Linked DNA regions of Homo sapiens. The protein of the gene in region 1 purifies or fractionates together with the protein of each later gene. This does not show direct contact. Each region holds a gene or a part of one and is shown in the gene's direction. Other genes may lie near its edges. The genes, in order: BCL11A, UBXN4, MAP3K20 and CHD4.

What was found.
Region 2: the proteins of BCL11A (region 1) and UBXN4 purify together in Homo sapiens (affinity purification with mass spectrometry; 4 studies listed by BioGRID and IntAct, with this or other methods). This does not show direct contact.
Region 3: the proteins of BCL11A (region 1) and MAP3K20 purify together in Homo sapiens (affinity purification with mass spectrometry; 2 studies listed by BioGRID and IntAct, with this or other methods). This does not show direct contact.
Region 4: the proteins of BCL11A (region 1) and CHD4 purify together in Homo sapiens (affinity purification with mass spectrometry; 5 studies listed by BioGRID, with this or other methods). This does not show direct contact.

What each region holds. Positions count from the first base shown.
Region 1 is NC_000002.12:60,550,635-60,558,640, reverse strand, and holds the start of BCL11A (BCL11 transcription factor A), read left to right. Parts: upstream 1-4,986; 5' UTR 4,987-5,370; coding exon 5,371-5,425; intron 5,426-5,926; exon of another isoform or gene 5,927-6,143; intron 6,144-7,733; exon of another isoform or gene 7,734-7,773; intron 7,774-8,006. UniProt on the Homo sapiens protein: Transcription factor. Associated with the BAF SWI/SNF chromatin remodeling complex. Binds to the 5'-TGACCA-3' sequence motif in regulatory regions of target genes, including a distal promoter of the HBG1 hemoglobin subunit gamma-1 gene.
Region 2 is NC_000002.12:135,737,806-135,744,875, forward strand, and holds the start of UBXN4 (UBX domain-containing protein 4), read left to right. Parts: upstream 1-4,049; 5' UTR 4,050-4,124; coding exon 4,125-4,206; exon of another isoform or gene 4,207-4,839; intron 4,840-7,070. UniProt on the Homo sapiens protein: Involved in endoplasmic reticulum-associated protein degradation (ERAD). Acts as a platform to recruit both UBQLN1 and VCP to the ER during ERAD.
Region 3 is NC_000002.12:173,190,825-173,197,845, forward strand, and holds part of MAP3K20 (mitogen-activated protein kinase kinase kinase 20), read left to right. Parts: intron 1-70; coding exon 71-99; intron 100-215; coding exon 216-353; intron 354-6,887; exon of another isoform or gene 6,888-7,021. UniProt on the Homo sapiens protein: Stress-activated component of a protein kinase signal transduction cascade that promotes programmed cell death in response to various stress, such as ribosomal stress, osmotic shock and ionizing radiation.
Region 4 is NC_000012.12:6,590,379-6,597,399, reverse strand, and holds part of CHD4 (chromodomain-helicase-DNA-binding protein 4), read left to right. Parts: intron 1-1,262; coding exon 1,263-1,394; intron 1,395-1,969; coding exon 1,970-2,066; intron 2,067-2,749; coding exon 2,750-2,941; intron 2,942-3,783; coding exon 3,784-3,984; intron 3,985-4,171; coding exon 4,172-4,309; intron 4,310-4,582; coding exon 4,583-4,704; intron 4,705-4,833; coding exon 4,834-5,007; intron 5,008-5,342; coding exon 5,343-5,484; intron 5,485-5,574; coding exon 5,575-5,706; intron 5,707-5,816; coding exon 5,817-5,934; intron 5,935-7,021. UniProt on the Homo sapiens protein: ATP-dependent chromatin-remodeling factor that binds and distorts nucleosomal DNA. Acts as a component of the histone deacetylase NuRD complex which participates in the remodeling of chromatin.

The sequences.
Region 1 (8,006 bases):
AGCGCTGACTGCTAGCTAGCTAAAGGCCCAGGGAGCCTGGAGAGAAAGATGCCAGACTAATGGTTCTCCCAGGAGCCTCCTTGAGAGATGTCTGTGCCTTTGTAGAAGGTATAGATACTGTCCTCCAGGGACCTCCCAACCTGTGGGTCACACTGGGAGTAGAGGAGGAAAAAGAAGCTCATCCTCTTCCACAAGCAACTCCCTAACATTTTTATTATTATTTTTTTGAGACAGGCTGTTGCCCGGGCTGGAGTGCAGTGATGTGATCTTGGCTCACTGCAACCTCTGTCCCCCAGGTTCAAGCGATTCTTGTGCCTCAGCCTCCCAAGTAGGTGGGACTACAAGCATGCGCCACCATGCTCAGCAATTTTTTGTATTTTTAGTAGAGATGGGGTTTCACATTGTTGGCCAGGCTGGTCTTGAACTCCTGACCTCAAGTGATCCTCCCACCTCGGCTTCCCAAAGTGCTGGGATTACAGGTGTGAGCCACCACCCCCAGCCATTCCCAACATTTTAAAATTCATTTTTCCTTTGTCTTAACAACAGCCTAGCACTTCCATCATTGAGACCCAAAATACAAAACCTATGCCAAGCATAGAATCCAAACCTAAGTTTTATTTTTATGAAGATGACTGCCTGTTCTCTATTTTGTGACCTGCCAATTAGGAAAAACAAAAAATAAAAATTAAAAGAAAAGAAATAAAAAGAAGAAAAAAGGCTAAAGTAAAAATCAAGAAGGAAATGATTGTATTTTTAATCATTCATTCAGTCATTCACTTATTTATCTTTGAGTCTATGAAGGTGTTTCCCCCTAAAGGCAGACAGTGAATATTTTATTTTAATCTTGTAGTTTCCATCCTGACAGACCTTTTAACCCTTCATCTTCCAGCTCAGCCCGAGTTCCTCGCGCCAGGCGATCCTCGGTCCGAGGGCTGGGACTGTATTAAGTCTCCCTCTTCGAGCTGTTTGTTGACCACATTCACGTTCAGAGCCCTTGAGCTAAAAGCACTTTACACCATAAAATAAAAGCACTGTCTTTTTTTTTTTCTAAAAGGTTACGTCTGGAGGCCACGCGGCTCATACTTCATACCGAAAACTACTGAAAGGACTATGAAATCCTGTATGATTTACACTCTCTCACTGCATTAGGGTATAGATCTACTCAACTCTAAAAATACGGTGGGTTTCTAACCGACGTGAATATATGTGCATTATTTCAGAAAGTCTGTTAGAAAACTTGTCAACACATTATAAAGCATAAACTAGGACTTGGCTATTAAGTACGGAGATCAGAGGCAGAATATATACTGCAGGAAGTCCTGGGGCGTCTCCTCCGCGGGCAAGATAAAAAGGGGGAGGAGGGAAGGGGAGGGGTCGTCTGCTGGCCTGGAGTTTACACGCAGTGTCGTCACCAAAGGTTTGGGAAAGAGCCCACGGAACGTAATTACCCTTTCAATGGGAGCAGCAACAGCTCTACAGCCCCAAACGAAGTTAACTGAACGGCCAGAAAATAATTTTAACGTTGTCATAATTTATTACTTTCTAAAAGCCACTTCTGGAAAGGTAAATATACTTATTGTGTATCCAAGTGTGCGCATTTAAAGTGACCTTTCACCCCCTCTACAAAACCACCTGCATCATTAATCAATACTTACGTAATATTTTAAAATCTCTTAAAACGACACATCTTTCTTTAAACACACATACAAACCCTCCCCTCCCCCACTTTCGGGCTCTTTAGCGAGCATCCAGCAGTGCTGAGGGAGGGGTTGTCGCCCTAGGGGAGGGCACCAGGGGCCGGGGAGGGGGGTCGACGACCAGGAGGGATCAAATGCCGACACACAGCCGTGGTTTTCTGGACTGGGTGAAATCTGGCTGGGGGAGGGGCGGGAGCGGAGGGCACTTCCCATTTCACCCTGGGCATATTATGATGGTGAAATTAAATATATGTCGGGGAATCGTCGCTGCTTACCTCTCCTTTGGCACCCAGGGAAAGCAGCTGCAAAACTGGCTTTTTAATGTATGTTTTAAGATGTGGTTTAGGAAGGAACCCCCTGGAATCTGAAACAAGTGCAATAACATAGCAGACCTACTTGTAACTAAGTGCTTAATTTCCTATGTTTTTTTTTAAAAAGGAAAATCAATAAAATGTTGCCAGTTATTTATTGGAAATAGCCACAGATAGCAGCCCTGATAGGGTGCCATCGTCAGAGCGCACACAATTGTGTAATGAATTGTAATTCAGAAGACTGTTAAATGTGAACCACAGAACCTTTCAGAGGTAATAAAGTCATTACTTTTTACACTACAGCCAACCCCGAAAAGCTTTATACACACCATTATATATAAATCATACATATATATATATTTCCACAACACTCACTCGCTCATTTATATATCTTCTCTATAGATGGACTTTTATGGACGGGTGGGAACAATATTCAAATCTGAAAAGCTTGGTTCTGAAAGAATCTGGCTCACTATTGTTACCTGAAGGGGCTTTTCTTTTATTTATTTATTTTTCAAAGGCCTCCCAGTTGCACTTTCTTCTTCCCTCTCTTCACCTTCCCTCCAACCGTCCCCCACGTCGTCCTCCCCCGCCACCCCCCAAGAAGACATTCTTTTGGTGACTCCAAGGCTGGTTTAACAAGACAAAAAGCAGACTGTGGTGGAATAGAGATGCTGACCTGCTCTGAAGAACTCAGTGAAAAGGGGAAATGGTGTCACACACAAGCTACAGAGCTTAACTTCTAGTGAATCCTCCCGCTTCTTAAACAGAATTTGAGGTCTCCCTCCCACAAACTGGAGGGAAACAACAACAAACAACAAACCACATTGACACAATCCCAGTACAGCCCACATCTCTCTCAATGTTGAGCATCAAAACCTCCTTTTCTTCCTTAGAGGGGTCCGAAGCTCCGCCGAGCTAGGCAAGCCAGTCATTTTCTAACACAGTAGACTTGAAACTTTACTAAGACGAAACAGGAATAAACAGCCGCTTGCCGGCAGGGCTGCGGGATGGGTGAGCGCGTGCAAGCCCGGGGCCCTCGCTTAAAACAATAAAGCCCCCCCACCGGGTGGGTGAGTTTACGGAAGCGACACCCTTTAGACTGAAGAGGGGGATGAGAAGACGGGGGTTGTGGAACCGCTCCGAGGAGAGGGAAGGAGGGCTCCTCGCTCTGCAGACACACTCACACATATCCACCTGCAGCTCAGGGTCTCGCGGGCCATGGCGACCCGTCTCCACCCTGCACCCTCCGCACCTCCCTTGGACCTGAGTCCATTCTCCTCTCCCCCCAACTCCTTCCAGATTTGGAATCGGACTGCGATCTCCCCGGCGGCGGCGGCGGCGGCTGCAGAGTGGTGCTGGCAGGCAGGGAGGCTGGGAGGCGGGAGGCGCCAGGGGACTTTACAGGCACGTTTCTGAATAAACTTTCCAATCGCAGGGGGTGCTGTTGCTGTACATTTTACGTAAAACTGAAAGTATCCCACGCCAGAGTGAAGCCCGCTTTTTGACAGCGGCAGCACGCGCGTGTGTGTGCGTGTGTGCATTAAAGAGACAGGGTTTTATTTCCAACAGGTCTTCCCTAATTTCCAGGGAACGTCTGCAGAAAGGCGAGAGGGGGCTGCTGGCTCCTGGGTGTGCGCCTTGGCCGGCGGCGCCTGGGGAGCGCGGCGGTGACCCGAGGCGGTCATCTCACCACCGTGGTCTCCCCGCTGCTCCTGCGAGCCTGTCGCTCTCTCTCCATTCCCATTTTCTCTTTCCCTGGGTAACAGCACAGGAACAGTTGTGCTCTGCCCGTAAGAAACATTTTCTTCCCATCCCTCTGTGCTTTTGCAGTTGCTCTGGAGTGGGAGGGGGTGTGTCCCTCCCAGGGACCCGGCTCGGGGACCTCCCGCGGCGCCGTGAGCACATTCCCAGGGACTGGGACTCCCGGGACTGCCCGCGCTTTGTCCTCGGCCTCTCAGAGAGGTGGACGCCTCGGTGCCTCTCTTGCCCAGGCCCCCGGCGCTCCCCTCCGGGGGCCAGACTCTGGCTCCTCGTTCTTTATTCCTCGGGCTCTCTTTCTGCGACCCTTAGGAGCCGGGGACTCGGCGCTTTCAGTTGCATTCAGACCCAGTCGCTTGGCGGGGCGCTCAGATTCCCGGTCCCTGGCTCGGCCTTGGGGGCGCCCTCGGGCCCCGGCCTGCGCCGCCTGCCTCTCCCCGGTCCCCTCTTTCCAGGCCGCGCGGGCTCCTGGAGACTTGGGCGCTGCCCTTCCGGACCCGCAGCCCTCCAAACTTAGGCTGGATTCCGCGTTGCCGTGCGCTCCCTCCCACCTCCCCTCGCCCGCTGCGGAGCTGTAACTTGGAGGCTCAGCTCTCAACTTCGGGTGATTTTTCTTTGCTGTCCTCTCCTCGGGCAAAGTTTCCCGAGCGCAGCCGCGGGCTCGGGGCTTTTACTTCGGCCCCTGGCGTCCACACGCGGGGAGCGAGCGCGGCGGCGGCGGGGAGGGGAAGTGGGTGTGCGTACGGAGGAGGGTGTCCGGGAGCAACTCTACCTGGCTTCCCTCCGCCCGCGCTTCCCCAGCCCGGGGCTGCAGCCTCCCGGTGCACTCTCGCTCTATTTTTTTCTTTTTTGAATAATCTTTCATTTTAGAGTCCGCGTGTGTGGGGGGGAGCAGGGCGCACGTCTTGCTCCCCCCCACCCTTTCCTCCCACCCCTGCCACCCCTTTCTTCTCTCCCGGCCACGCCACCGCCGCGGCGCTCGCTGCGGCCACTGGTGAGCCCGCGGCCCCAGCGCCCCCTCCCCTCGGCCCGCCCCTCCCCCGGGGGCCGCGTCTGGCGTCCGCGGAGCCCCCCGCCCCGCACCTCCCCCTCCCCGCACTGGCCATTGGCTTGTCCTGGTCTCTTTTTCATGTCCAGCCCCTGATGTGTGTCCATTGGTGTGAGCTTCCCCTTCCCTCCTCCCCTTCTCTCCTGCTCGCCCTGCCCATGTTTTGTGTGTCTCTGTCCATCCAGACTCCTGACGTTCAAGTTCGCAGGGACGTCACGTCCGCACTTGAACTTGCAGCTCAGGGGGGCTTTTGCCATTTTTTTCATCTCTCTCTCTCTCTCTCCCTCTATCTCTCTTCTCTCTCTCTCCCTCTTTTTTTTTTTTTTTTTTTTTTTTTTTTTGCTTAAAAAAAAGCCATGACGGCTCTCCCACAATTCATCTTCCCTGCGCCATCTTTGTATTATTTCTAATTTATTTTGGATGTCAAAAGGCACTGATGAAGATATTTTCTCTGGAGTCTCCTTCTTTCTAACCCGGCTCTCCCGATGTGAACCGAGCCGTCGTCCGCCCGCCGCCGCCGCCGCCGCCGCCGCCGCCCGCCCCGCAGCCCACCATGTCTCGCCGCAAGCAAGGCAAACCCCAGCACTTAAGCAAACGGGAATTCTCGCGTAAGTAACCCAATAATAGTAATAATAATTATTAATAATCACGAGAGCGCGCAGGACTAGAAGCAAAAGCGAGGGGGAGAGAGGGGTGTGTGCATGCATTTTTAAATTTTTCACGAGAAAAACCTCCGAGAGTCGAGGTAAAAGAGATAAAGGGGGAAAAAACCCTCATCCCATCTGGAACCATTGCCGTGTATGCACTTTTGAGACAGCACGCACCTTTTAATTTTATTTAATTTTACAAAAATTTGACTCCTCCTCTTTCCTCCTTTCCGCCGCTTTATTTCTCTTTTCGAAAAGGAATGCAATGATTCCACTCCCCCCCCGCCCCGCCAGTTTTGCAAAATAATGAACAATGCTAAGGTTGCGAACAACTCACATGCAAACCTGGGGGTGGGAGCTGGTGGGGAAAGGGAGGTTGCTTCCCACTCACCGTAAGAAAATGGGGGGGTAGGGAGGGAGTGAGTACAAGTCTAAAAAACGATTCCCGGGGAGAAAAGAGGTGAGACTGGCTTTTGGACACCAGCGCGCTCACGGTCAAGTGTGCAGCGGGAGGAAAGTAGTCATCCCCACAATAGTGAGAAAGTGGCACTGTGGAAAGGGGCCCCCGGCGCTCCTGAGTCCGCGGAGTCGGGAGAGGGGCCGCGGCGACGGGGAGAGCCGTGGGACCGGGAAGGACGGGAGACGCGGCCGGCACTGCCGCCTTTTGTTCCGGCCAGAGGTGGGTGTTTGTCCCGCTGCCTTTTGTGCCGGCTCCTCGCGCTTGCCCTCCCGCGCCGCCGCCGCCGCCGCCGCCGAAGGGCAGGAGCTAGGGCCGGGGGAGGAGGCGGCCGGGGGCACGCGGGAGAGGGAGGGAGGGAGCCCGGACTGCTGCCTCCTGGGTTGCCGCTGCCCTCCCCTCCCGACCGAACCTCAGAGGCAGCAAGGAGAAGACTGGCACATAAATAAATAAATACATAAAAATAAAATAAATAAAACAAGGCAAGAGAATGTACAATTTCTTGCCCCCAAACCGAAGCCAAACGCTCTGCCAACCCTTTTCTGTGACGGCCTTCTCTTTGACTCCCCCACCAGCCCCCCTGCAAAAATCTCACAATCTCTCATCTAGAAAAAAATTTACAATCACCCTCTTCCCCCAAACCCCTTCAGTTGCAAACTTAGGGCGCCGACGGCACGGAGAGGGAGAGAGGAACTCCCTCCTCTTACTATTTTTTGGAAGATTTTCAAAAAAAGTGGAAGTGGATTTTGATTGGGAAAAATCTCGTGTCTGAATGTTTACAAGCACCGCGTGTGCGGGAGCCTCCTGCCAACAAACAGACAGAGGACCGAGCGCGGCGCGGCAGCCCCGGAGCAGGCGGCGGCGGCGGCCTGGCCTCGCCCGGGCCTTGCCCGACCTCGCCGCGCCCCAGCCCAGCCCCGGATCGCCCACCCGGCGCCCGGCGCCCACCCGCCAGGCACGGCGGCAGGCCACGCAGTGTCTCCGCGCCAGCCTGGCCCGTGGTCCTGGTCCGCCCCCAGCACAATGCCGAGACCTCTTCTCGACCTCCCAGACTGCGAAATCGGCTGGGTGAAACTCGGCTTTGCAAAGCATTTTTATTTTGCAGGGCAACTGTAAAAGCGCGTTCTGCGCCTCCCCTCCCCTCCGCCCTGGGTACTTTCTCAGACGTCTCTTGTCCACAGCTCGGGACCGCGAGGAGGTCACCACGTGCTTTCCCTGCCCACCCCCCACCCCGCCCGGTCTGGTCACCAGTCCCCCTGCGCCCCGAGCACGACTAGGCCAGGTGGCGGGGTTGCCGGGGAAGGGCAGGGGAGAAGTGTGTTTGAGTGTGCATTTTAAGGGCGCTGGATCCTGGGACCCCGAGCACTTCACCCTTTGGGTCTTGCCCTCTTCCCCAGGCCTGGCTTGGTCTGAGGTTCTTGTGAGTCTGTATAAGAGCTGGTGGTGGTGGCTGTCTCCCGCTGACTGCGCCTGGAAAGGCGGGCGGTGGGCACTTAGGAAAGTTTGGCAGCAAGGGAAAGAAAGGCGTGAGGGCCCACATTCCCCCCCTACTCAATTTATGATTCTTACTTTAAATTTTTGATGCAGTTTTAAAGGACCACCTATACTTGGTTCTGTGTTTTTTTAAAGGGGTGGTGGTGGGGGGTGCGCACAGGGAATTTAATTTTTCACTGGGCCCTGGAACTTGTCACACACTTCGGAAGCTCCCCCACCCCGGCACGTTGCGCGGCCCTCCCTCTCCCCACCCCCTCGCATCCCTCCCTCGCCGCTCTCCCCCGCCCCCAACTCCCCCGGCCGCGCCGGATGCGGATCAGACGCGGCGCGCGGCGGTGTGAAGTTACAGCCCGGCCAGGTACCGGCGGGAAGGAAGGGCAGTGTTCGCAGGACTCGGGAAAGTCAGGCCCTTCTTCGGAAGGATGCAGTGGGGGCTCAAAGGACAGACCGGGGCGCGCAGTCCAGGCTGCTCCCTCGTACCCCTCTCCCTCCTGGGTCCATCTTGGGACACTCTAGGCTGGGAGGGTTAGTACCCCCTCCTCCTGTCCCGGGGTTAAAGGGCCAGTTTGGGAGGGGGTGAGGGGGCCACTT
Region 2 (7,070 bases), about 75 Mb from region 1:
CTGGTCTAGAACTCTTGGCCTCAAGCAATCCTTTCATCTCAGCCTCCCAACATGTTGGGATTATAGGCATGAGCCACTGCGCCCAATCTGTGCTTTCTTCTATGTGTCTTTTATTAAGAAAGCTTTTCCTGGAAGTAGCCCCTCCCACCCCCCTACCCTTCCTACAAGGTTTTACTGGCTTCAAGGGGAGGTTGAAAAGCCCAGTATCTGGCAGGTTGCTTTGTTGTTGTTGTTGTTTGAGACAGGGCCTCACTCTGTAGCCCAGGCTGGAGTGCAGTGACGCAATCTCTGCTCACTGCAACCTCCGCCTCCCGGGTTCAAGCGATTCTCATGCCTCAGCCTCCCAAGTAGCTGGGATTACAGGTGCATGCCACCATGGCTGGCTAATTTTTGTATTTTTAGTAGAGATGGGGTTTCACCATGTTGGCCAGGCTGGTCTCAAACTCCTGACCTCAAGTGATCTGTCTGCCTCAGTCTCCCAATGTGCTGGGATTACAGGAGTGAGCTACTGCACCCAGCAGTTTTGCCTCTCAGTAGAAAGTGAATTCTGTCAGGAAGGAATAATAGAAGGCATGGTAGAAGAATGACTGCTGGATCGGCCATCAACAGAATGTGCTGTATACCCCATTTTCCCTCCCATCTCCAGAGGGGCCTTCCATTTTCCCATTTGTTCAATCTAAGACCAGTTCCTTTCCACTAGCATTTAATTTTATGCAAATCTCTCCCATCTTTAAAAAGGCTGTCTTTTCAAATCCAAATTCCTGTCCAGCTAATGTTCCTTTCTTCCTTCTCACCTTCACACTCACTGACTCTTTACCTCCCCTTACTTTTCAACCTTTTGCCATCTGGCTTCTGTACACAAGAACCATGAGAATTGCTCTTGCTAAGCTTAAAATGACCTCTGTGTTACTAAAAACAATGGACATTTTTTAGTCTCTCATCTTAATTGACCCAACAGCAGCATTCCACACCACTGCTTCTCCTTTCTTAAAATTCTCTCTACCCTTGGCTTCTTTGATATCACACACTCTCCCATTTTCTTCCACCACCCCACACTCTGCCTTTCCTGCTGAGTCTCTTTTACTGGTTTATACTTTTTAATACAACCCTATAAACGTTGGAGGCCCTAAGACCTCAATCATGCTCGTGTCTCACCTCACTTTGCACCATCTCCCTAAGTGATGGTATCGTTATCTTCCAGTGCCTCATTGATCCCCTGTATGTAGATAAATCTCACTTTCCTATCTCTAGTTAAGAACTGTTATCTGAGCTCCAAGACTAATAGCTATCTGCCTACTTAACACTGCATGTGAATATCTCTCTAGTACTCCAAACACATGTTTAATATTGAACTCACACCTTCATGAACAACCTCCCCACCATCCTTCACTTCTTTCAGTGTTGCCTATCTCAGTACCATCTTCTTTACGATTTTGCAAGGCAGATACCCCAAATCTCTCTCTCTCTCTTTTTTTTTAGAGACAGGGTCTTGCTCTGTCGCCCAAGCTGGAGTGCAGTGGTGCAGTCATGGCTCGGTGCAGTCATGGCTCACTGCAGCCTCAAACTCCTGGGTTCAAGTGATCCTCCTGCCTTGGCCTCCCAAAGTGCTTGGATTACAGGCATGAGCTAACACACCTGGCCACAAAATCCCTTCTTGAGTCCTTCTTCCTCAACCTCCACATGTAATCAACAAAATATATTGGGTCTGTCTCCAGAATATCAAAAGCATCCACTTCACTATCTCCCTTATGTTAATACATGAATAAGTACCTCTTACCTGGTCTATTCACATTCAGCCATTCCACTTCAAATCCAATCTATTCAATTGCTATCATACAATTTAAAAATGGAAGTCTTATATGTATCTGTTTATTTATTTATTTTTTGAGATATAGTCTTGCTCTTTCGCCCAGGCTGGTGGGCAGTGGTGCCATCTTGGCTCACTACAACCTCCACCTCCTAGGTTCAAGCGATTCTCCTGCCTCAGCCTCCTGAGTAGCTGGGATTACAGGCATGTGCAATCACGCCCAGCTAATTTTTGTATTTTTAGTAGAGATGGGGTTTCACCACGTTGGTCAGGCTGGTCTTGAACTGCTGACCTCATGATCTGCCCGCCTCGGCCTCCCAAAGTGCTGGGATTACAGGCATGAGCCATTGTGCCTGGCCAACTCTTCTGTTTAAAATTTTTCAATGGCTCCCTGTAATCCTTAGAAAAATGTCTTAAAATTTTTAACATGATTTTCAAGACTCTGTATCATCTGATCCTTGCCTAGCTTTCCAGCCTCACTTGTACCACACTCCTCTTTCTATGTTATAGCCACACTGGGCATTTTTTAGTTCTGCAAGTGCACTGTGTTTGCTTGCTTCAGAGCCTCATGTGGAATAGCCTTCTCCTTCACCTACCTAGAGTTCCCCGACACGTCATTTCCTCATGAAGGCCCTTTCTGACTCCACTAGCCCATGTTCGGTCCCATCCTCATACACTTCTGTAGCACTCTGAATTACCCTTCTGTGACATTTATCATCACTCATAATTACTTATTCAATGTCTGTCTTCCTGACTAGACTGTACAGTCACAAAGACAGGGCCTTCTTCTGACTGCCTCACCTCCTTATCAGTGCCAGGCACAATGCCTAGCTCATAAAAGATGAGTGATAAACACTTGACAAATGAATATAAAACTATGAAGGATTCTTATTTAATTCTAAAATTAGAGATAATTAAAGACATAGCTCTATTGGAATAATTTCTAGATTGATCAAATTTCCAGAAGTCCATTAAAGTTGATGTTAAAGGTCAATTCTAATTTTTCTGTAGGATTGTTGTCCTATAGAAGCAACTGTCCCTAATCAGCATTATGTCTCAGTTTATAATAACACTATATACGAGAGGCCTGATTGGGAAAAAAAGTACAAAAATCGGAGTGCAAATAATTAGCTATTTTTAGGGAAAATATCTGTAGGAAAGGTGGTATATTCAGATGTATCACTTCCTTTATCTTGCAAAGATTGTCAGATAGATGTACTGCTGGAGGATAAATTTAATTGATGTAGAATTTAACATAATAGTATATGCAACTTTAAATAAACCATGCAAGCCTTTAGCTAATAGTTATTACAGACCATGTGATTTCATGAAAGTATTAAATATGGATCAGTTTTCATTTAATGGCAGCCAATCACAAAGCGCCACATCTTGATTATAGGACATTCTCCCAGAAAATTGGAAAATAAATCACTATCTAGTCTCTTTTGTATTACCATGGAAAGTAGCTGGAAAAGAAATAATCTATTCTCTGCTTTGTGTTACTTTAAAAAGTAGCTGTGGCAATAGCCTAACGCGTTTTGAAGTTTTGAAATGATCTCTATCCAGTGTCTAGGAAATTGCTGAAGGCCTGCGTTCTACCAATTCCTCCGCTTAGGCACATGGACTACAGGTTATTAAAGAAGGTGACTTGCGGTTTTTATCCCGTTTTTCTGCAAGGTTGGGCTACGTTCAGAAGAAATCAAAGCCTCGGAGTTAATCCCGACAAAGCCCATTTAGTTCCATGCGAGGACTATTTCCTCCACACTGAGAGTCTCAACGAGGCCGAGAATAGCATATGCCAGTTGGAGTGACACTTATTTCTCCCTCTCCCCTTTATAGAATGTGTAGTGGCCCTCACTACTGCCCCCTTTAGCTGTGCCTCAGAACCCACAGTTACATGCTCCACAATATGGAGGCGAATAAGCCTAAGTGGACTACAATTCCCATCATGCCTCACTGCAGGCGCCGCCGACGTGTCTTAGCGGTTAGTCATCCCTCTTACCGCTTTCCTCCACTTCCTGGACTGCGCGACCGGAGGCCTAGCGGGCGCGCGCCCGCACCATCGACTCGCCAACGAGAGAAGGTCCTGGGGCACGGACACCGACGGGTTGCGACTGTGACGTGAGGTGTTCTCGCGCGCGCTAGCGCGCGTCTCCGGGTGCCGCTGACGGGCGTGCGCGCTTGTGCGGAGCCGGAGGTGGGGGCCGAACCAGCCAAGGTTGCGGGGGCCGCAGAGCCGGACGAAGACGGAGGGCGGAGCCGGCTTCGGGACTGCGGAGACTACACACCGAGCGAGCGCCTGGGCCCGAAGGGAGCGATGCTGTGGTTCCAGGGCGCCATTCCGGCCGCCATCGCGACGGCCAAAAGGAGCGGCGCGGTCTTCGTGGTGTTCGTGGCAGGTGAAGGAGGCAGGGGTTCGAGAGGCGGCCGGGACACCCCTCCGGCCTACCTTCATCCTCTTGTATACCTCAGCCGCCGGCCCGCCCTCCCCGAGACGCGGGCTCCTGTCGGCTCGCACAATTGCCACTACTACCCCGCGCCCCAGGGACGGCTGCGACTCCGCCGCCAGATCCCCCAGAGGGGCCATGCAGACCCTCAGCGCCCTGCTCCTTCAGGCCCCGGGCGCCCCCAGCCTTTCCTCAGTGTCTGCGAGGCCCGGGCTGCCGGCCCGTGGCTGTTCAGCGCCTCCCCGGTTCGTTTGAGATACAGTGGGCCTGGCCCCACCGCTGCGTCTCCCGGCAGCCGGGCCGGAGGCACCGTCTGGCCCTGGTCTCCAAAGCGCCCCGAGGCCCGCCGAAATCTCCCCGCTCGGGGCGACGGACGCGGCCAGCAGGCCCCAGCCGCCCAGCCCCGCTCGTCGCCCCGAGCCTCTCCCCTGCGCAGCCAGACCCCCGCGACCCTCTCCCTGACGTCCCTCTCTGTCACCAAGGACCCTCTTTGTGCTGCTTGAACGCCCGTTTCGTTACTGCTGTTTAGATGGAGGTAGGAACGGGCCATTAGGCAAGCAGTTGGGTTGTAATTAGTTGTGGACTGTCGGGAAGAAAGCTGTGTCATCGATAAGCAACAAAGAGAAACCACCTGATGTTCACGGTTACTGGTGTTAGTACGTTCCTGAAACGTAAACTTTTGAGCTGAATAGAGGTTTAATTTTTCTTTATGGCAGTCTTGGTAGGGGATCTAGTGTGAAATAATGTAAGTTTAAAAAAAATCCATTAGTTTCAAAGAAAATAGACGTTCAGTCCTTGGTTTCTTCCCTTTGTTGTCTTCTTAGGCTAAAATCTACACGACTTTGAGAACGTTTATTAACTCATATATTCTCTGTTGCTCTAGGCTATTTTGCTCCATATTCTCCTGTTTTATTACTGAAATCTTGTAGATTTACAGTGAACTCCCTGCCTCTACGGTTCTGCTCATACTCATTACATGGACCAAATCAATGTTTGTGGCTGTTGTTAATTTGAGGTGTATTTCTTCAACTATTTGTGTTTAATAACGGTTTATTCATAATTAACTCGTCTTTTAATAGCTCTATAACTTTATGCACTGCAGTGAAGAACGAATTACTGAAATGTGAATGTCATTTAGCATTAAATTTGGAATTTATAATTGTTTTGTTACGCCAAGTTTTTAGCTCAATGCTGTTTATTAGAAGAGCTTGAATAGTTTAGATTCTGTGATGCTGTCTGGGGGTTATATTATACTTTACATAAATTAATTCTGTAATCCCGTAAGGAAAAAAATGGATTGAAAATGAAAGGAAAAGTAAATGACACTATGCTTATTGTGTACATTAGTAGGTTTTTGACATTTTAAATTGTTTTTCTCCTAATATCTCAGTTGATCCTTGCAGTAAATAGAACAGGTTTAATTATCCCCATTTTATAGATGAGGCACTTAGGTCAGCAGTCATAAAGTGACTTGCACTAGGGCCACAAAAAGGATTTACATGTCTTAACAGTCAAATTTTTTAGTAGCTTCAAAAAAACTGGCTTTTTTGTTTCTTAAGGAAAAAACTGAACAATTTGTAAATTGGTGATTTAAATTGGTATAGAAATCAGAAATTTGGATTATGGTAGTCATGTTTTTGAACAAATGTCCAAACATTCCTAGAAGGCACTCTTGAGGTAAATCAGTTAATTTAAAAAAAGAAACGAGAGATTTTTATTAACAAATATTAATATTTGGAAACTCTAGTACAAATTATTGGAATAGTTAAATAAAGTTATAGGTCTTGCCTTTCGGGGTTTTGTGTATATATATATACTTTCTTCAATTAAGTTTTTACTGATGAGCATGTATTACATGTATTTAGAATATAATGACTCTTGAATGTTTGCAGGAAGACTGTTAGCAATCTCACAAAGGAGTCTCTGTCTGTCCCTTGACCTGTTCCAAAATCCAGCTAGCTTTTTTAGAGCTTTAGCCAGTTAATCCCCAAGACTAAGTAGGATTAGTGTCACTCTAGGAGTATGTAGATACTGGACTCATGAAACCAAAACACTTACAGATTGCTTAGAGCTTTCTTCATAACTCTGAAGTCAGAACTTGTGATTTTCTTAGGTCTAAGATCTCAGTAATAATATACCAACTTAATGGAAAATTTGAAAGATGTCTTTATAGTTGGAAGACGTGATCTCAAGAGTACACTTTGGTTCATAGAACTGTTCAAGTGGGAAACGTTTTAGGCAAGTGGTCTTTAGTTAGTGACATTTTCATGGATGAATTAAAGAATATTGTAGAGTTGATGTTAGGAGACGAGAGATTACTACTACTTCAGCTAACAAATTAATATGATTTTCAAAGTATTGTGGCTGTGTAAAGTAAGTGAAACAAAACGATATTCATTTAATACTTGGGAAGGTAGAATAATCTGACGAGACTGAAGTAAAGGTATCTGTTCACTGGCTAATGTTGCTAGGTAGGTAGGCCAAACTTTGTTAATGATAGACGCCATTTTCTGCCTTTTTTGGTGAATGTAGACCACAGAAGCCTTTAGGTTTTGAGCAGTTGAGATTTATTTTACATCGGAAAGACTGGCTGTATGAGGGTCTGCAACTCTTTGCTTCTGAGTTCGTGTTGCTCTCTTTAAGTGCCTTCGCTTAGGATACTGCCGATACAAAGGATATGCTGTTTTCTCCTAAAATCTTAGGCCCACCTAACTTTATAGTTGATAATTTGATTAAAAATAAGAAATGAAAGATACCAGAGTTAGCAATCAGTCATCCCACTCAGTAGTATTAGGAAAGTTGTCATTAAGCATTGA
Region 3 (7,021 bases), about 110 Mb from region 1:
TTTTTTTCAGTAGAAGACAGCTCAAACAAATTAGATGATTGTCATAATTTATCCTTTTTTCTTTTTTTAGTTGTTATAGCTGCTGATGGAGTATTGAAGGTAGGACTATTTCTTTTACTTAAAAAAATTGTTAATTTCAGATGTAGATTTTTGTAACTGATAATCCCTTAATTAGCCAATAAGTAGAAAGTTGACACTGATTCCTGTTTTCTCAGATCTGTGACTTTGGTGCCTCTCGGTTCCATAACCATACAACACACATGTCCTTGGTTGGAACTTTCCCATGGATGGCTCCAGAAGTTATCCAGAGTCTCCCTGTGTCAGAAACTTGTGACACATATTCCTATGGTGTGGTGAGTTCATTTCTCATTTCTTGTTTACTAAGGGAAATACAAAAAGCAAACACTCAAAAGAAGAGAGATACAGTTTAACATGGTTTTATTTTTATTTGAGACTGTACTGCTGGTGGAATGCCTAAAGCAGCACCATTGGAGAACGCTTCCTAGTTGCCAAAATGTTTAATCATTTTTAATCATCGGAGTTATTTTGTCCTGTGTTGAGAAGAAACCAACACCACTTCCAAGAAACAAATTAAATGGAATCCGAGATAGTGTTGGGCTCCGCTTTGCCTGTGAGAATGATTTTTTGCAGGGTGGTAATGTGACTGTGGACTCTCTCTGTAATTTCAATGGAAATGTGGATCATTTGGAACAGGACTTCATTGTAATGGATTGCTTAAACAGTATAAAATCACCAATAGATCTGCCAAGCGAGTTAATTACCAGGAAACTTTTGAGTCTCAACTATTAAACTGATTCATCGGTTTCTAAAAGTCCAAAAGAAAATGTACTTAGCACTTACCAGATGACCTTGTCCATGTCTGCTGCCAGTCTTAGAGTAGCAGTGACTATCTGAAGCGTGACTCTAAGGCATTACATAAGAATCACAGCAGAGCCACATAGAGAATAGACTAATGAGGGGGTGGAGTGCTCAAGGAAGAGACCACAGGAATGAATCCGTTAAGGAGCAGAAGCTCCTGGAGGAGGAATTTGGAGATGGGCCATTTCCTGAGGAATAGGTTATACCTGCATTATCAGAGAGAAGGAAGTGGAGTGGGAGAGTTCTTTGCTGGAGGAAGGAATTCATTTGTTGCCTTTTGTTGAGGATAAACTTTTCCCTAAAATGTTACGTATTCTTTAAAAAGTCCAAAATAGTTTTGGAATTCCCTGTCTTTACATCTCATACTGCCCTGCTATTTATACTATTATACTGCCCTGCTGTTTATACTATTACTTCCTAAAAGGGCATTTTCATAGTAATGGGTAAAGAAGCAGCCTGTTTTAGGTCCAAATCAGCCTGTCTCTTCGTCCTGAACTTCTGTGTTTTCTTACTGCAGGTGGTAGCCAATGACACAAGAGGAGATTCACGTTGTCAGACCTGTTTTGTTTTGTTTTGTTTTCTTTATTCGGTCTCTAGGTATTTAATGCTGGCTTCACAGGTTTTGGACTTGTTTCAGTGACTAGCTTTTTGTAAATCATAACACATCCTATGTATACCAAATTAATAAAGATTAATTTTGTTAGCTATTGAAAAAATCATTTCAAGAATGAAATATGTTTTTGACCGAAGGCTAGAATTTTAAAGGTCAGAAGGCAAGAGTAACATCAGGCTTAATACCTGATATCCAAAAAAAGAAAAAAAATCAATACCTGATATCCCTTGATTCTGGTTTCTTAAGAATGAAGACTATAAGCTATTACAGTGATCAAATATTTCTCATAAGTTTCAGAGGAGACTAGCTTATAAAACTGGTCTCCTATGTCAAATGTTACTACATTCTAACCATCATACATTCATCTGTGGGATATTCTGAAAATGGGGTATTTGTAGCAATTTAAGACTCTTTGTAAGATTGTTTTCTCTTGTGAAAGTGCATTCCTTCATTTATAACCAAACGTTTATTTACTGAGGCACACACCACCTGAGAGTAATTTAAATTTTTCTTAGCCTGCTTGTTGGGAACGGCCTCTCGTTTTGTCCTGTTGAAATAGGAACAAGCAAACTTTTTCTAGAAAGGACCAGATAATATATATTTTTGGCTTTGAGGGCCACTTACAGTCTCTGTTGCATAGTCTTCATAGATGCCATAGTTGGCTTTTTGTTTCTTACAACCCATCAAACATGAAAAAGCCACTCTGTATTCTGCAGCAGGCCATCGTTGCGGGCACCTCCCTGGAACAAGAGGGCTTGGGAAGATGAGCAGCGTGGTTTAGGAACGTGGCTTGACCGTTCAGAGTGGCTCACCAGGAGCCCACTGCTCCCACTCCTTTAATGTGCATGTGTATATAAATGTATATAAACATGTTTGTTGGTGTTAGGTATATATGTATGTTGGTTATAGTTATTGTAGACTGTTACAGCTTTTAAATTGTTTGTCACATTTATATGAACTAGAAGACTTTTGAGGTTCATTTTTGCACTTATGAGTCCACACACATACAGTGCTTTTACTTTTAAAATTCTCCCCAAGTGTTTGAATTTCCTTATCTCAAAAATTTTTGACCTTAAGACACAACTATACATACATTGAACTTTTAGCCTCAACATTATTTCATATATGAAAACAAACTTTATGCTGCCTTCTTTCAAAGCCTTACAGTTGCCAGGGCTTTGGTGTGAAATGCCCCCCTCTGCTTTTCCTGAGATGAAGTACAATCTTAGTACCAGTAGCCAAGCACAAATTCCTTTTCACACATAAACTATAAAAGATGTTAAGAGTGACTTCTGTTTGGAGAGCTTAGGATTTTTTTCCTGTATCATTTTAAAATCTCTTCATACATTCCACATTGACCCCATTTCTTAAACATAGTTTGAGTCAACCTTTCTGGAGCTGCACATTTTCAGTGTTTTTTATTAAAAATCTTTTCACTTAAGAAACTATGCACCACATTTCAGTAGAAGGGCTTGAACACGTCTCTTTGTGGATTAGCTTTTCTCTCTACTTGTGTGCTGACCCTACCTTTGCTTAGTTTGGTTTGGTTTTGGAGGGATTTAACAAATGCTTAACAAACCATCCTATGGAGTAATTTCACTTACTGAAACAAACTCGACCACCAGCCACTGAGCATTTCCAGTGTTGCTCTGTATTTACACACTGGATGTTGCTCTGCAGAACCTGTCCACCCCATCATGTGATGTGGAATATCAATTCTGCATTCATGCTAGAGCCTTCCCTTACCTGGTGGAAACAGAAATGCCATTTCAGTGAGTGAGTCTATTTTAAAACAGCTTCTGCTGTGTGAGTCTTGAAGACAGAGGTTTGCTTGGAATGCTGGTTTGCCTCACAGAATGTTGTGTCAGCAGAATTCCATTCAGAAAAGTGTACAGATGCTAATTTAATTATAAACAAGAACTCAGGACTGTATAGGTTGATGCAAAAGTAATTGAAGTTTTGCCATTTAAAAGTAATGGCAAAAACTGCAATTACTTTTGCACCAACCTAATATTTAATTCTGACCTCTTCTCATTCTGTTTGTTCTAAATAAACACCATTAATGAGAGAAAAAATACGAGGTATGCTTTCCAGCGACTTTTTATTTAAACAACCACAGGTATTTTTTTAATGAAGAAAGCATTATGTGTTCAAAGTAGATGTTATAGAAAAGAGCAGGTGAGGATAGTTGTTAAGGTTGGGACCATGTTAGTTTTAGAAGTTTGTGGTCCATAAACTTGGAAAATGATACCTATTTTAATTCAAAATGTGGTTATTTTGAATTTTTTATGTCTTTTCAAAAATAGGTGAGTAGCCAAGACTCCTTTGTCAGTAGGAGCATTTATTTGCATTAAATATCCCATTGTTCATTGGGAGTCTGTTCTGTTCATTGAAACCCCCTCTACACACAGCAGTCACATACAGATGAATAAGACCATTAAAAAAAAGGTTTTTTTTTTAAAATCCACCCAAAAAACTGCAATATATTTTTGCTTTTTGTTTTTCTAATTTTTTAGACTGCTGTAAGAATTTAGCCCCTACTACTCCCAAAACCACCAGCCCTCCCCAGGTTGATAAACCTTTGTTGCTTCTTAACAAATGGCAAGACTCACTAACCTTGTACTGCCTTAAAATAAATGTGCTGTGAATGCCAGAAGTGGATTTTATGATCCTTGCTCTTAAGCTGGTAAACTTTGCTAGGGAGGCAATTGTTTCCCTCCATTTTATGAGAAATGAGATTTTTCTACCCTCTTATGAGAACTCTTGGAGGACTGAACCTGGAAGAGTGTTTAGTATGTTATCCACAAAAAAAGAAAAGCAAAAATCACTGAAAGAATAAGCCTTCTGAGAACACAAGGCCTAGCCTCTCTTTAAAAAAAAAAAAAAAAAAAAAGCTATTCTAATGACAATGCAGAAAGGATTACCTTCTTAGAAGCTTCTCAGCCAAAACCAGCCTTGAAAACATAGTGGCTTAAGAGACAGCATGGCTGCCTGGCTTGTCTGTGAGCACTGTTCCAGAACAAGCTGGGCTCAGGTAATGGCTTTCTATTGTTTGGAAAAGAAAGGGCAGAAAAAGTACGTAGTCTTTTCCAAGTTTCTATTCTGTAAACTGAAAACATAAATTTTCCTTGTGAGCACAGTTTAAATGTGAGGACGTCTCAATATAAAATGAGTCGGAAAATATTTTTAAGGTGAAAGATCACAATAATATTTGGCCTGAATCCTCATAACTGGTATTTTTAGGCATCATTTAATATATTTTTAGACCTCCAAGTGACTTCCTCAGTAAAGTTACTTTTGTATGCCAAATGTTATTTTTGTTTAGTGTGGAAAAAAAAAGCTGATGTCCTATCTTATACCACCTGCTTTTTGATACATCCCCAAATCCAGGGAATTAATAAAAGGAAATCATGAGATGTGCTGATACTGGAATTAAACTAAAGACCTCATTTGGGCTTCAGGACATAGCAGCTAATGACCCCACCTCAGACACTTTTACATCCATCAAGTAACTCCCTCAGCTGTAGTAGCTCTTCAGAGACACAGAGGGAGTCAAATGGAATTGGCTTATTTTTTTCTTTATTTTTCACGGTTAGAGCTCTCAGAGAAATATAACTTAAATTTTATTAGATTTTGGACATTTTCCAGCAGAATATTTTGGAATCAAGAATGACGTAAATGTTTTTCTGGTGTTGTCCCCCCAAACTCTTGGATTTGCAATTTACTTCACAAAATTCAGTCTGTGCATGTGTGCACACATGTACACGGCGTGTTTATCATACCTGCAGGCCAAACTCAGAAGAGGCACTGCTCATCTGTGCGTTTGGGGGTCTGGAGCGTTTGATTTATTGGAGGCTAACTCCCTGTTCCCATTCTCCTTAGGAATGCCACATCCATTAATTTACTTGCCCTTCGTATCTTTTCCCCTCCCCAGCCCTAGCCCCCTGTGGAGTGGTAATTGCAGCCAAATGAGGGGCTCCATTTCCTGCTCAGCCCTCTTGCTGCCCAGCCTCCCTCCCTGTGTAGGTCAGGGTGATTGCATACCTGTTCTGTCACCCTTCCTTTACGTGTGGTGTTCACTAGAATTGTCCCCTTGTGGGATGCCCCTTACCTTTTCCTAATCACTTGTGTGACTCAAATAGAATTATTCAGTAGCTCCTCTAAAGGAGTACCTTACACACTTGATTAAAAGCCCAAAGAGGCTTCAGTGAATTTTTTTTCTCCTGCTTGAGCAGCATCTGCCAATTTCCCTGATTTTCCTGCTAATTATCTTCGTATTAGCCAGAATTCATTTACTGTGTTATGGTTGAAATGAGACTGAGCACTGGCTGAGGAAATAGTGGATATGGAGTGAAAGGTTTCTATGATTTGCTTGACTAGAGAGTATGTGTGCTCCATCTACGTTCCTATTAGAAATGAGCTTTTGTTTTTAAAACAAGGGAAATCTGAGTCGAAGCCACTGGTTCTCTTCCTGCTTCTCCCAGGGCGCCATACCTAAGACAGGGCCTGTCGCATTCTCTCAAGTACTGTCACTTTCCCTTCACTCACATTAAAAGGAGTCAAGAGCCTGACCTTTGGGGTGAGCCAGCAGGTTCATAGTCTGGCTCTGTCACTGGATAACTGACTGTCTTTGGGCAAGTTTTTTTTTTTTAACTTTTTAAATAGTTACCTCACCTATAAAATAAGGGTAAGATGTATCCAGTAGGATTGCTATTAATCATGGTAATATATGAAAAGGGCATCTGGAATATAATAAGTACTCAATAAGCGGTGGTGGTTTTTATTATTAGGACTATTACTGATAAAACTAGAATTGTTTTTGCACTTTACAGAGTATTGGTAGACTCACATTTTTGAACTCCATTTGTATAAACAGGGAAAAGTAACATAGTATACAAATCTCCATTACTCAGTGTTTCAAGAGAACCCAAAATCAGCAGTATTCCTAGCATCAATTTGCTTTCTTTGGGCATTCCACTCAGATTTAATAATCATACTGATCTCAAGAACTGCACAAAGATGAACACACACATAAGCTCACTTTCACATAGTCAGCTTATATGTATAGAAAGTGTTTATTACATCTTAGAGTATGGTATAATAGATTATATTGTAGGTAGATGAAAATAGATCCCTTAGACCGACTCATTTTGCGGGAGATTTCTCCAAAATCTAAAATGTAACTTGTAAAATCTAAATATTACAATTTTGCAAGTATCTACCATTGTGGGGTAGGTAGGTTAGCCAGTGATTTGGATTTGGGGCTCAGTTATTTTTGATGAGACCATTATTGAACCTTTTAAAATATTGTTGAATTCCCAGTTATTATTTCCTAGACAAATGTATCAGAAATTGAAGGTAGAACGAGTTTTAACTAACAAAATATACAATCTAATTTGTGAGAACATAAAAATTCTGATAATTTATGAGATGACATTAAATCAGTCAGGCCCATTGGTTTCATAAAATTTTAAGTCTGGCTCTAGATGTCCTAATTTCTAAACCAGGTTTTTTCTTTATAAAAAAGAA
Region 4 (7,021 bases), on another chromosome or scaffold:
CAAACTCCTGGGCTCAAGCAATCTGTCTGCTTCAGCTTCCCAAAGTGTTAGGATTACAGGCGTGAGCTACTGCGCCTGACACTTCATGTTATTATCTTTATTTATTTATTTTATTATTATTGTTTTTTTTTGAGACAGACTTGTCACCCAGGCTGGAGTGCAGTGGCGTGATCTTGGCTCACTGCAAGCTCTGCCTCCTGGGTTCACGCCATTTTCCTGCCTCAGCCTCCCGAGTAGCTGGGACTACAGGCCATCGCCACCATGCCTGGCTAATTTTTTTTTTTTTGTATTTTTAGTAGAGACGGGATTTCACTGTGTTAGCCAGGATGGTCTTGATCGCCTGACCTTGTGATCCGCTCACCTCCTCCTTCCAAAGTGCTGGGATTACAGGCGTGAGCCGCCGCACTCGGCCTATTTATTTATTTATTTATTATATTTTTTGAGACAGAGTCTTGCTCTGTGGCCCAGCCTGGAGTGCAGTGGTATGATCTAAGCTCACTGCAACCTCCGCCTCTCAGGCTCAAGTGATTCTCTGCCTCAGCCTCCAGAGTAGCTGGGATTACAGGCGTGTGCCACCACGCCTGCCTAATTTTTTTTTTTGAAATGGAGTCTCGTTCTGTCGCCCAGGCTGGAGTGCAGTGGCGCAATCTCAGCTTGCTGCAACCTCCGCCGCCCGGGTTCAAGCAATTCTCCTGCTTCAGCTTCCCGAGTAGCTGGGATTACAGGCACCTGCCACCATGCCCGGCTAATTTTTGCATTTTTAGTAGAGACGGGGTTTCTCCATGCTGGCCAGACTGGTCTTGAACTCCCGACCTCAGGTGATCCGCCTGCCTTGGCCTCCCAAAGTGCTGGGATTATAGGCGTGAGCCACCGCGCCCGGCCTGATGCCTGGCTAATTTTTTTTTTTTTTTTTAGTAGAGACGGGTTTCGCCATGTTGGCCTGGCTGGTCTTGAGCTCCTGGCCTCAAGCGATCTGCCTGCCTCAGCTTCCCAAAGTGCTGGGATTACAGGCGTGAGCCACTGCACCCGGCCAACACTCTATGTTAATTATTAACTGACTGAATTCTGGTGTTTGAGCTCTAGGAAAGTATAAATTAGAGATAATTTTTGGTCAGAGACTGGTACAGTAGAGGCTCTGAAAACGTGTGATCTGTGGCATACCTAGAGGTCTGGTGTGAAACAAACGGTATTGCCAGTTTTTGAGAGGAAGTGAGGAGGGTTGCCTTTTCTGGCTCTGAGGGTTTTCTCTCCTGGACTTGCAGTGTGGACAAGAAGGGCCACGTCCACTACTTGATCAAGTGGCGGGACTTACCTTACGATCAGGCTTCTTGGGAGAGTGAGGATGTGGAGATCCAGGATTACGACCTGTTCAAGCAGAGCTATTGGAATCACAGGTGAGTGATTTTGGGTGAGGCATAGAGTTGTTTCTTTTTTTTTTTTTTTGAGATGGAGTCTTGCTCTGTCACCAAGCTGTAGTGCAGTGGCGTGATCTTGACTCACTGCAACCTCCGACTTCCTGGTTCAAACGATTCTCCTGCCTTAGCCTCCTGAGTAGCTGGGATTATTTGCATACGCCACCACACCTAGCTGATTTTTTTTTTTTTTTTTTTTGAGACGAAGTCTTGCTCTTGTCCCCCAGGCTGGAGTGCAATGGTGCGATCTTGGCTCGCTGCAGCCTCCGCCTCCTGGGTTCAAGCAATTCTCCTGCCTCAGTCTCCCGAGTAGCTGAGATTACAGGCGTCTGCCACCATGCCCAGCTAATTTTTGTATTTTTAGTAGAGACGGGGTTTCACCATGTTGACCAGGCTGGTCTCGATCTCCTGACCTCAGGTGATCCGCCCGTCTCAGCCTCCCAAAGTGCTGGCCTCCCAAAATGCTGGGATTACAGGTGTGAGCCACTGTGCCTGGCCAAGTTGTTTCTTCTATAGAAAAGGATTTTGGGCAGCTGTGTGATGTCTTTCTTCTTTAGGGAGTTAATGAGGGGTGAGGAAGGCCGACCAGGCAAGAAGCTCAAGAAGGTGAAGCTTCGGAAGTTGGAGAGGCCTCCAGAAACGCCAACAGTTGATGTGAGTGGGGGTGGAAGGGACTGTAGTTTGTTGGGTAGGACAATGTATCTTTGCTGCAGTCTAATGATGGTACTCTTAAGTAATGAAATGCAGATAGTAACTTTGTAGCTGAGATTACTTCACAAAGTCGGCTTCCCCACTTCTCCACATCTCTATATATCAGAAAGCACTAGGATTACTTTCTTCTTTTGTCATCAGAAAAAAAAAAAGGAGGTATATTTTGAATGATTGAAGAAGTGTTGTCTGGGGGGAGGGGCCACATAGCCTAGCTTTTATGCACTTACATAGGAATCTGGCTTAATTCAGGCTCAGTTCCTCTGGGTTTTGTTTGTACAGTGTAATTTGAGGGTGATTAAAGTTAAAAAGATGAATCTAAGAGGGACATAACGATTATTTACCTGGTGGATCCTGACTAGTAGAATTATTGTATTGGTAGGGAGTCTGTGACGTGCTTTTCCTCAGTGATCTGTAGGATCAAAATCAGGTCTGGTTAAGCCCTGTTTCCTGGAGGACCCTAAACTGAACATGAAATTGCAGTAATCATAGGGGATCTCTTCCCTCCGAATTTTCCGGAGCTCTTCCCCAAGAGGATCCGTGAAGACTAGTGAGGAGGAAGCAGCTGCTCTATTAGGGGAGGAGGGGAGTTCCTTGCCAGCTCTTGACTTCTCTGTTTCATCCTTCAGCCAACAGTGAAGTATGAGCGACAGCCAGAGTACCTGGATGCTACAGGTGGAACCCTGCACCCCTATCAAATGGAGGGCCTGAATTGGTTGCGCTTCTCCTGGGCTCAGGGCACTGACACCATCTTGGCTGATGAGATGGGCCTTGGGAAAACTGTACAGACAGCAGTCTTCCTGTATTCCCTTTACAAGGAGGTAAGGAAATCTGGGGTGGATAGTTTTTTGTGTGGGTGTTTTGTGTTTGAAGCCTTAACTTACACTGAGTAGAGAGATAAGGGAATAAAAAAATTGGTCTCTGACCTTCAAGAACACTGTGGATAATAGATAAACACATGTACACATGTGTTTAGTAGATAGTAGATAAATGTGATAGTGGATAAACACATGTACACAGCGGAAGATTTGAGGGCATGGAGCCCTGGGTAGGATTAGCAGTGGATCCATAGAGTATCAGTTCTAGGGGAATGATTGTGTGTTGAGGGAAGTAGAATTATGAGTAGAATTAGTATGGAAAGGCTTGGCTGGACGCAGTGGCTCATACCTGTAATCCCAGCACTTTGGAAGCCCGAGGTTGGTGGATCACCTGAGGTCAGGAGTTCGAGACCAGCCTGACCAACATGGCGAAACCCCGTCTCTACTAAAAATACAAAATTAGCCGGATGTGGTGGTGCACGCCTGTAATCCCAGCTACTTGGGAGGCTGAGGCAGGAGAATCGCTTGAACCCGGGAGGTGGAGGTTGCAGTGAGCTGAGATTGCGCCATTGCACTCCAGCCTGGGCAACAAGAGTGAAACTCCGTCTCAGAAAAAAAGTATATAAAGACTTAATGGGAGAGGTAAGACTTGTAGTTATGGTGGGACCTTGGGTTTTTGGAAAGGAGTGGGCTGGGCACTTGTATAGAGGAAGGTGAGAGCAGGAGCAGCAGCGCAGGTGTGTCAGTCCTTGGCTCAGCTTGAGGGGGCAGCAGGGTGGTGGGTGTTCGCTGGGGTTGCAGTGTGCTGGGGCCCTCAGTCCTGACTCTCCTCTTTTTTCTCAAAGGGTCATTCCAAAGGCCCCTTCCTAGTGAGCGCCCCTCTTTCTACCATCATCAACTGGGAGCGGGAGTTTGAAATGTGGGCTCCAGACATGTATGTCGTAACCTATGTGGGTGACAAGGACAGCCGTGCCATCATCCGAGAGAATGAGTTCTCCTTTGAAGACAATGCCATTCGTGGTGGCAAGAAGGCCTCCCGCATGAAGGTATCTCAGGGGAGGGAAGCCACCCTAGAGAAAGAGTTGTGGCTTCTGGCTTAGTTTACCTCCTTGTGATCTGGTCCCTGGTGAGGCAAAAGGGTAACCCTGGGAGGAGGAAAACATTCCATCAGTCTCCTGGTTGTGCTTACACAGAGGAACTGACTAGTAGTGACCAAGTTGCCTTCATGTGCAGAAAGAGGCATCTGTGAAATTCCATGTGCTGCTGACATCCTATGAATTGATCACCATTGACATGGCTATTTTGGGCTCTATTGATTGGGCCTGCCTCATCGTGGATGAAGCCCATCGGCTGAAGAACAATCAGTCTAAGGTGAGGGCTGAGGGAGGGATGTTGGAGCCCCCACTTTGGGTTTTTTCTAGTACTACCAATTCATTAAGGGGAAAACTTGTAGATGGAGAGGAGAGGGGAAAATTGTCTCTGCCTTCCTTCCTTGTATGTGACAGCCCTTGGTGGCCAGGCCTTTAAAAAGAATGTGAGGAGTGGGATGCTTAACTATTGGGCAGTGAAAAACTTGAAATTTTGTAGAGATTTGCTAGAGCTCTGTTTTCATTGGATTTCACCTTTCTCCATCTGCTTCACCAGTTCTTCCGGGTATTGAATGGTTACTCACTCCAGCACAAGCTGTTGCTGACTGGGACACCATTACAAAACAATCTGGAAGAGTTGTTTCATCTGCTCAACTTTCTCACCCCCGAGAGGTTCCAGTAAGTATGTGTTTATCTGTAATCGGCTCATAATTGTGCCTCTCATTCTTCCTGTTGCCCATTTCCTGTATCACTTTTCTTTCTTCCTTTCTCCTTCTCCAATAACTTTTTTCCTTTTTCTTTCTGAAGCAATTTGGAAGGTTTTTTGGAGGAGTTTGCTGACATTGCCAAGGAGGACCAGATAAAAAAACTGCATGACATGCTGGGGCCGCACATGTTGCGGCGGCTCAAAGCCGATGTGTTCAAGAACATGCCCTCCAAGACAGAACTAATTGTGCGTGTGGAGCTGAGCCCTATGCAGAAGTGAGTTGGGAGGGACAGAAGCAGACTCCATTTAGACATCTGCCAGTCTGCAGAGTGTTTCCTATTCCTCCCCCACTCAGCTTCAAGGCATCTGGTGACAGGAGCAAGCAAGGCCTGAAGAAACCTGATGCTAGGGCGCTGGAGCGCATAGTTCTTACTTATTTTAGGTTATACCTTTCCTTATTTAAAATGGTGGTGGTGGTAGTGCTTGTGCGTTAGGTGTCCTTAGTTCCAAAGTGGGATGTGTTGGAAGAAAGATCTCAGTTGTTGGCACTGCATTATTAGTCATTGAAAGGCTCTCAAGTCTAACCTGTCTTTCTACCTTGCCCATGTAGGAAATACTACAAGTACATCCTCACTCGAAATTTTGAAGCACTCAATGCCCGAGGTGGTGGCAACCAGGTGTCTCTGCTGAATGTGGTGATGGATCTTAAGAAGTGCTGCAACCATCCATACCTCTTCCCTGTGGCTGCAATGGTATGTAGTGCCATCTCCTGTTCCTCCCTGGGTTGGGTCTTCTCCATGTGGGCTTTCTTTTAATACTTTTTTCTTTGCATTTGTTCTCAGGAAGCTCCTAAGATGCCTAATGGCATGTATGATGGCAGTGCCCTAATCAGAGCATCTGGGAAATTATTGCTGCTGCAGAAAATGCTCAAGAACCTTAAGGAGGGTGGGCATCGTGTACTCATCTTTTCCCAGGTATCATGTGGACTGGGAGCTTTAGGGAACAGTCATAGACAACCCTTAGTGACCTAAGGAAAGGGATTACCATCTGACTCTTCCATAATTAAACCGTGCTTCTTTTGCAGATGACCAAGATGCTAGACCTGCTAGAGGATTTCTTGGAACATGAAGGTTATAAATACGAACGCATCGATGGTGGAATCACTGGGAACATGCGGCAAGAGGCCATTGACCGCTTCAATGGTGAGAGAGAAGGAGTTGTTTAGTTTCAGGAATCCTCATTTGCTTATATCTTTGGACTGTAACTTCTTGTGCATCTCCTTTTCTGTGTAGTTCTTTTGGGACTTTGTCATTTGAGATGGAGTAAAGCTTTTGAATGTCTCAATTGGACGAATGTATTGGACTATTCCTAGGAGATTTTTTCTTTTGGGGTATTTGTTCTTTCTGCTAGAAAGAAGAAAGCATTGTATCTCGAGGGCAAGCAAAGGGTCAGGACTTGTTCAAGCTCAAATAGCAAGTTACTAGCAGACTTGTCTGCCTCAGTAGACGCTACTAGGTTTTTTTTTTTTTTTTTTTTTTTTTTTTTGAGATGGAGTCTTGCTCTGTCGCCCAGGCTGGAGTGCAGCGGCACGATCTTGGCTCACTGCAACCTCCGCCTCCCGGGTTCAAGCAGTTCTCCTGCCTCAGCCTCCCAAGTAGCTGGGACAACAGGCGTGTGCCACCACGCCCAGCTAATTTTTGTATTTTTAGTAGAGATGTGGTTTCACCATGTTGGCCAAGATGGTCTCGATCTCCTGACCTCATGATCCGCCCACCTCGGCCTCCCAAAGTGCTGGGATTACAGGCACGAGCCACCACGCCCAGCCTGTTTTGTTTTGTTTATTCGAGATAGGGTCTCACTCTGTTGCCGAGGCTGGAGAGCAGTGGCACAATCATGGCTTACTACAGCCTGGACACACCCCCAGGCTCAAGTGATCCTGCTGCTTCAGCCTCCCAACTAGCTGGGGCTGTAGGCTTGATCCACTGTACCTAGCTAACTAAAAAAATTTTTTTGTAGAGATGGGGTCTTGCCATGTTGCCCAGGCTGATCACAAAGTTCTGGGCTCAAGCAATCCTCCTGCCTTGGCCTCCCAAAGTATTGAGATTATAGGCATAAGCCACTGTGCTCAGTATCACTACTCCTTGTTTAAAAAAAAAAAACTTTTTATTTTAATTTTAGACTTAGAAAAAAGTTGCAAAACAGCAGAGAGAGTTCATGTATACTGTTCAACTAGCTAGCTTCTCTTAATAATAACTTACGTAACTGCAGTACAATGATCAAAACTAGAAA